2 separate regions of the Homo sapiens genome follow, and region 1 is linked to region 2. Evidence: fine-mapped expression QTL. Tissue or cell type: whole blood. Region 2 holds a variant in brackets; the other region holds the start of a gene. All regions are shown on one strand. Distances are between the middles of the regions.

What was found. PIP is the estimated chance that this variant, and not a neighbour inherited with it, causes the effect.
Region 1: TNFSF13B starts here. The variant in region 2 is fine-mapped to the expression of TNFSF13B in whole blood (INTERVAL, PIP above 0.99).

Annotation. Positions count from the first base shown.
Region 1 is chr13:108,268,166-108,272,324 of GRCh38, forward strand. It overlaps TNFSF13B (TNF superfamily member 13b), which reads left to right and starts at 1,553. Exons shown (of 6, transcript NM_006573.5): 1 at 1,553-2,069; 2 at 2,175-2,259. The coding sequence starts at 1,731. RefSeq lists enhancers at 1,589-2,018, 1,970-2,478 and a silencer at 2,379-2,458.
Region 2 is chr13:108,311,730-108,316,082 of GRCh38, forward strand. No RefSeq gene overlaps it. Among named protein-coding and RNA genes, the nearest start is that of TNFSF13B, 44 kb to the left of the region's middle. The variant T/C (reference allele first, on the strand shown) is at 2,564.

The sequences.
Region 1 (4,159 bases), 44 kb before region 2:
ATGCAAAGACATAGGAATGATCTAATGGACTTTAGGGACTCAGGGGAAAGGGTGGGAGGGGGGTGAGGAATAAAAGACTAAAAAATGGGTTCAATGTGTACACTGCTCGGGTGATGGGTGCACCAAAATCTCACAAATCACCACTAAATAACTTAACCATGTAATCAAATACCACCTATTCCCCAAAAACCTGTGGAAATAATTTTTTTTTAAATGGAAGCATCCAAAATGTAATTTGTTTCCACATTCTTGTAAGCCTCATTATGTATCCCAGGGACAGTTAATATCGTCATACGAATTCACAGGTGAGGAAATGGAATCACAGAGAGATTATGTACTTTGCATAAGGAGAGCGAGGGTGAGGCAGGATTTGCAGTCTAGAAGCCTGGGTCTGGAGTTCTCCACTTTGCACTATATCATTTCTGTAAACTTCTTACTTAAGACTGTGTGGAAATGTAGAGTGAGACAGAACTAAAGCTCACTATTCTTAGTCCACAGGGGAGTAGTGACTACCCAGGGCTTGGTAAGTGCTCAGTAACGTTTGTTGAAAGATGAATCAATATTTCAATGCTGGGGCAAAGCAGTGAAAAACTGGGGAATGTCCAGGAACCAGCCATCAGGATAAGGCAGGACTAGAATGAATGCAACAGTCCTCACAGGTCCACCAAGTCAACAACAGAAAAATCCAAAGCTAAGGTGGCTCTTGTGTGATCAAGGACCTCTTGTACACCGACCTGTTAGGCTGTGGCACAGTCAACATGGGAGTTGTAGACAAGCTACTTGAGAGTGGTTAATGGTAGCAGTCAGGCATTTGGAGCTGGAGGCAAGGCTGATTCTCCTCAACTAGTATCATATTGAGCGGGGACTTAAAGCCTCAGAAGTCTGAGCAGAAAAGCTGAGACCAGGCTCCTTGGGACAGGCTGTTCATATGCATGATTGAGTTTCAGTGATGAGTCCCAGAAGGAAAAAGTTTATGCATGTTTTCCTTAAAAATATATTCACTTATATTTAGAGAATCCTTCAGATATCTAACCTAAATACGTCTGTAACATTTACTCTCATTCTTTTTATGACATTATTAGTATAATAATATGAATAATTCCCAGTGGACTTACTTCCACACTTCCTTCAAGGATTCTCCATTTTATTTCATAATTGAAGACTGTTAATAAATCACTCTCTAGCTAAGAACAATTCAATGCTAAAACACTTAGCTTATCTGACCTTCACATTAATTATTTTTATGACAGCAGCAGGAACTTTCAGCTGCTTTTCCCCCTTCCTTATGAAGCCATGTGGTCCCAAGCAGACAGAGTTCCCTTGCTACACTTAAGGGTGGGCTTCTCAGACCTGAGCATATCTTAAAAGCTTTCCCTTGACTGTGCCAATCCAAACTCCAAGTTTCCTCAGCAGATTTAAGGGGTTTTAAATCTACTTGAGCATGAGTGTTATGAGAAGACTTTGAAATTCTTACAAAAACTGAAAGTGAAATGAGGAAGACAGATTGAGCAATCCAATCGGAGGGTAAATGCCAGCAAACCTACTGTACAGTAGGGGTAGAGATGCAGAAAGGCAGAAAGGAGAAAATTCAGGATAACTCTCCTGAGGGGTGAGCCAAGCCCTGCCATGTAGTGCACGCAGGACATCAACAAACACAGATAACAGGAAATGATCCATTCCCTGTGGTCACTTATTCTAAAGGCCCCAACCTTCAAAGTTCAAGTAGTGATATGGATGACTCCACAGAAAGGGAGCAGTCACGCCTTACTTCTTGCCTTAAGAAAAGAGAAGAAATGAAACTGAAGGAGTGTGTTTCCATCCTCCCACGGAAGGAAAGCCCCTCTGTCCGATCCTCCAAAGACGGAAAGCTGCTGGCTGCAACCTTGCTGCTGGCACTGCTGTCTTGCTGCCTCACGGTGGTGTCTTTCTACCAGGTGGCCGCCCTGCAAGGGGACCTGGCCAGCCTCCGGGCAGAGCTGCAGGGCCACCACGCGGAGAAGCTGCCAGCAGGAGCAGGAGCCCCCAAGGCCGGCCTGGAGGAAGCTCCAGCTGTCACCGCGGGACTGAAAGTGAGTTTGCAGCAGCTGCAAGACGCAGGCAAGATCCTGCCTACACTGCTGCCTCTCCCTCGCCTCAGCTGTCTTTCTAATAACTTGAAGTTTTTCTGTTCATAGATCTTTGAACCACCAGCTCCAGGAGAAGGCAACTCCAGTCAGAACAGCAGAAATAAGCGTGCCGTTCAGGGTCCAGAAGAAACAGGTATGTTTTGGGCACAGACACTTTTAGGAGTCAGGGATTAGAGAATAACATCCAGTCTGGGGGAGCTGGAGGTGAGTATCCCCTCTATGAACCTATTAAATAGAGACTATGAAATTTGCCATCCAAAGCAGACATTGCTTTAGAGCAAAGCCCCAGCGCTGGCAAATGTAACAGGCTGCATGGGTGTGCTTTTTCCTCCAATGAGCAGATCGTGTGACTGGAAGCATTTCTCTGTGCGTGTGTAAGTATTTATCTGTGCATTAAGCATAGAGGAGATAAAAGGGCCATATGTGTTTCCTCAGGTAGATAATGCCCTCCCATGTGAGAAGCATTATTCATCACTCCAGAAAAATAAAAAAAAGCATTACATGTTAGAATTAGACTTTGCTTACTACCTGGGTCATAGAAAGTTAAAGACATCTGTTTTCTGAATGTACATTACATGTTGTGAAACCAGGTGAAGGTTGTAATGAAAGGCCCTGTATGTTGTACTTTAATTTTGTTTATTTGTTAAAAAGGTTATTTTACACACACACACACACACACGCACAGACACACACACAGATTTTAAAGCTTCTCTTTAAGGTACGCTTTTCCAGGGGATCCATGCATTTATCGTCTTCTTATAATCGTCCTTTACTGATTTCTGACTTTCTTCATGTTCTGCTCATTCCACGGAACTTTACAGAGTTGGTGGGGCCTACCAAAATGATCGATTCTAGTTCTTTCATTTGAAGGTGAAAAAAAGAATCTTTGTATACATTTATTAAAGTTATAATATAACAAATTCTTAATATTATTGTCCTTTTATTAAATATATTGAAAGAATATTTTTTGAGCACCTGGAACGTATCGTACAGCTATAGACCAGAATAGGCATTTTCAAACATACTATTTCGTTTAACCTTCACAGTGACGCTATGAAGTCCACAGAATACATGCAATAATTTATGTATATTTTCACTTCTGAAGAGAATTGCATAAGAAATGTAGTGAGAGATAGACCAGGGACCCTTCTATCACACACACACACACACACACACACACACACACACACACACACACGCATGAGGTACCCTGACTATAAACTTATTTTTTGACTATATGCTTTATTCATAAAAAATTGTTTCTTATTTTATAAAACCATAATTTTTGGTATCTGGTTATTGTATCTTTATACTAGTTATCAGGAATAACTGGGCTTAAACATTTTTAAATTAGGAAACATGCACATTTTTATTATTTTAACACATCAATTATTTTTATCGTCTGCATTTTATAGTCTATATTTCCTACATAATTGAAAATAATACGGAATATATACTATAATATTTTTTGTTTTGACTTATACAATAAGGATTTTTCCTATTTCTAAGTATTTTTCATATATCTGTATTAATTTATCTAACAATTGTTTTAAATGGTTATTTCCATTCTCTTTGCTATAATACAACATGCAAAAGTTTTGCACAGAACTCTTTTATTTCTGTGAAATTATATATTCAATATAAAATTCATATAGTGGAATATCTGAGCTAGGGAGAAGAAACATCTTCATCACCCTTGCTTCCGACTGCCATATTGTTTTCAAAATGAGTTATACATGCAATCAAAAATGTGGTGTACCGGTTCTCCACATTCTTGCTTGCATGTTATTTTTAAAGTGTATTTTGACTAGTTTAGTAGTTGTAAAACAATATCTCACATTTATTTTGATGTGTTGCTTGTTTACTAATATGAATAAACTTTCTGCATATTTTGATTATTTATAATTTTATCTTTTGCTAATTTTTATTTATAACTGTCTCCACTTGTCTGTCCCATGTTTTTATAATTTTGGATAAGCTCTTCCTAATTAGACATATTGATAATTGATCAAAATTTTGATGTAAATATTTTA
Region 2 (4,353 bases):
TGATAGTGAATTAGTCTCTCGAGACCTGATTATTTTAAAAAGAGGAGTTCCTCTGCACACACTCTCTCTCTCTTTGCCTGCTGCCATCCATGTAAGACGTAACTTGCTCCTCTTTGCCTTCTGCCATGATTGTGAGGCTTCCTCAGCCATGTGGAACTGTAAGTCTAATTAAAACCCTTTCTTTTGTAAATTGCCCAGTCTTGCGTATGTCTTTATCAGCAGCATGAAAACGGACTAATACAGTAAGATTTATGGGGAAGAGTATTTGAGAGAGAGGAAATGGAAAGCAAAATCCCTTCAGTGTGTTTGTGGAGCACAGTGGTCCCAGGATGCCTGGACAGCAGTGATCCATGGAGAAAGTAGAAGATGAAGCTAGAGAGTTAAGGAGGGGAGGGCACTGAGCCTGCAAGAACTTGCTGTGCATTGGGAGGGAATTGCTTTTAGTCTGAGTGAGAAAAGAAACCCTAGAAATTTCTGAGCAGAGAAGTGATGTGATCTGACTTACTTGTAAAAGAACCACTTTGGATTCTGTACTGTTTAGTCTACACGGGAGAATGGGTGAAAGCAGGAGACTAACAGGGGTCTGTAGCCATAATCCAGGCAAGGAATCATGGTAGCTTTGACTAGAGTGGCCGAATTGTGTGTTCTGTGTTGAATGAAATATTCAAGGATAATATCACATGATCACTTCAGCAGATCCAGGAGGCAAAAAGTACAATTTAATATTTACTTACGGTAAACACTTTCAACAAAGCGGGAATGAATAAAACTTTTTAAATCTAATAAAATTTGCAACCAGGAAAAGATAATTATCACTGGATGATTATTACCACTTCTACATTTTCCCCAAATATTTGCTCAAGTCCCAACTCCTGGTACCTGTAAAGGTGACCTTATTTGGAAATAAGGCCTTTGCAGATGTAGTTAAGATGTAACTTAAGTGAAGTCATACTGGAGTAGGGTGGGCCCCTAAATCTAATGTCTGTTGTTTTCATAACAGGAGGAGAAGAAACAGAGACATGCACACAGGGAGAAGGCCATGTGAGTATTAAGGCAGAGATGAGAGAGGTGCTTTTACCAGCCAAGAAACACCAAGGATTGCTGGCAACAACCAAATGCTAAAAGAGGCAAGGAAAGATTCTCACCTAGATCTTTCTGAGTAAGCAAAGACCTCCCGATACCTTGGCCTCAGACTTCTACCTTCCAGAACAGTGAGAAGTACTTGTTTTCAACCACCCAGTTTGTGACACTTTGTTATGGCAGGTCTAATAATCGAACACAGATGTTGACACTGAGAATATTGAAAAAGGTCATATTCTGTATATCTTTAAAAGTGTAACCCACAATATTTGTTTATTCTCTAAACATGGGAGCGGGAAGATAAAAAGAGAGGCATGAAGGATCACTCCCAAGTTTTAGCCAGAGCAACATGAATGATGATGAATATCCCCTAACAGGATGAGGAAGACTAGAAGAAGCAGCTTCAGAGTGGGCAGGAAGGGAGTTCAATTTTGAACATATTAAATTCTAGTTGAAAGGTGAACACCGAAACGGAGATGCTGTCTACGAAGTTAGGACTAGAAACCCTGTATGAGATCACCAGGGGTATAAGACCAAAGAGCAGAGAAGACAGTGAAAGAATGGATTCTGAATGTCAACATTCAGGAGTCCATGAGATGAGGAGGAACAAGCAAGGAAGACTAAAAAGAAATTACAATTAAGAGAGTAAAAACCAGGAGGCCTGAAGCCAAGTCAAAAGAAAAAATCATAAGGGAAGTTTCATTCAGCCTGTTAGTGCTGTTAAATTGCACGAAAGAGGGCGGGGAGGGCATGGTCAGGGAGCAGACTGCAATTGGCATGAGGCCAGGAAACACCCAGATGGGAAAGTGGCCTATATACAAATACTTGATTATATGATTTGGCTGTGTCCCCACCCAAATCTCATCCTGAACTGTAGTTCCCACAATCCTCATGTGTCCTGGGAAAGACTTGGTGGGAGATACTTGAATCATGGGGCTGGTTATCCTCATGCTGTTCTCGTGATAGTGAGTGAGTTCTCACGAGATCTGTTGGTTTTTAAAGGGGCTTCCCTCTTTTGCTTGGCACTTCTCCTTGCTGGTGCCATGTGAAGAAGGACGTATTTTCTTCCCCTTCCACCATGATTATAAGTTTCCTGAGGCCTTCTCAGCCATGCTGAATGCTGAATCCATTAAACCTCTTTCCTTTATAAATTACCCAGTCTCGGGTGCGTCTTTATTGGCAGCTTGAGAACAGACTAATACACTTGAGGATGAGGGTGCAACCTCATTAGAGACCTGCCTTACACTAGGGCCACAGAGATAAGTTGTGAGAGGTGGTCAGGTTCTGTATGCATTTTGAAGGTAAAAGAATCTATCTTCTAACATGAGGTGTGAGATTCACTCTCAAGTTTTTGGACTCATCAACTGAAAAGGCATTATTCACTGAGTTGGGGAAGGTAAGAATTGGAGAAGAAAAAAACATAGATTGTTCTAGCAGGTTTAATTTGGAGATGCCTGTTAGCCATCTGTTGGGCAAACAGTAT[T/C]TGGCCATGGATACTGGGATTGTTTCTTTTTTCCTTTTACAATCAATACTCCTATACGCATTCTTGTACTTGTCTCCTCGTGTGAATATTTAATTCATTCCAGTTCTCATAACTCCTGGGAACATGGTAGAATGGCACAGCCTTGTCACTGAATGGGGCCATGTGACTATTTCTGACTAACCCGTTGTGAATTGAGCCCTATAGAATACTTCTTTCTCTCTGATCCATGATCAAAAAATTTCAAAACAGCGTATGTTGTTCCATCAGCCTAGATCCCTCAGAAACTATATTGAGCAGAGAACTCCCTCACCCGGCCACTTGCTCTGTGAGATTCATGATGGAAAGGCAATGTGAACAACAAATAAATTTCTATTGTCCAAAGTCACTGATATTATAGGCATGTTTGTTTCTGCAGTGTAATTGAGCCCATCTTGACTGATACTTTCCAGAATTAATTTTATCGTGCCATCTCATTCAACCTCCTACGACTCCCATAAAAAAAAACGCAGCCAGGGCATAGAGCCCATGTATTAATTTCCCCTTAGATAGCCCATTGCCATGCTCTTCTTTGACAACCTTGACATTATCTTCCATATCAGATACTGCTGATCTGAGCTTTGTTCTCAGTGCCCTTGGGCACTGTGTTCTCCTGGTCAGACTATACCCCTCCTCCTCAGGGACAGCTTTATCTGCCCATGCCCTGCTGCCTGAATGAACCAAATTACAGAGAAACTCATCCTGTCTTAGGTGTAATAATTCCCTGACTTCCACTGTAGCCACACACATACAAACAAAATGTACAATTAGAAAGGAATGTTTGAAGAAACAGCTGGCTTCTTGGCATGCCACCTGTGCCCAAGGACCCACACTCAGAAAGCCTCTGTGCTTACTTTAATGCTCCACTGTTGCCATCTTGGAAATCTTAATCATTTTTGAGCAAGGGTGCTGATATGGTTTGACTGTGTCCCCACCCAAATTTCATCTTGAAATGTAACTTCCACAATTCCCACATTTTGTGGGAGGAACCCAGGGGGAGGTGATTGAATTATGGTGGCAGGTCTCTCCTGGGCTGTTCTCCTGATAGTGAATGAATCTCATGAGATCTGGTGGTTTTAAAAAGGGAAGTTTCCCCGCATGAGCTCTATTCTCTTATCTGCCGCATGTGAGACATGCCTTTCACCTTCTGTCATGATTGTGAGGCCTCCCCAGCCATGCGGAACTGTGAGTGTATTAAACTTCTTTCTTTTGTAAATTGCCCAGTCTCGGGTATGTCTTCATCAGAAGTGTGAAAACAGACTAATACGGGCACCTACACTTTTATTTAGTGCTGGGCCCTGAAAATTAGGTAGCAGTTCTATTAGAAGATATTAGAGAGAAGGAGTAGAGGATAAGTTAAGAGCCTCATGTCTTGTGCCAAAAGTCTAGCATTCAAATCCTAATTTGCTTCCTAATTTTATAACATTAGTAACACTGAATTTGTGAAAAAAATGCACATGTAAAAACACTCAGAATAGTACCTTGCATATTATATGTGCTAAATACTTTTGCTTAAAAGATACACATGCCTATACCCACATACACAGACATAACAGGAGGAATTTGAATTTGAATTCAAAAGAAGGAAAGAGAAGTGTACTGTCTGGTTTCATTTTAGCAATGAAAACCAATGTGGAAGCTAAATTGGCCGGAAACTGAGGAATATCTGGTTTTGTTATCTTGTATTGTTGTTTTGTTTTAAGATATCTTGGGTAGACAGGGAAAAAAATGAGAGAGAGAGAGAGAGAAGGCAG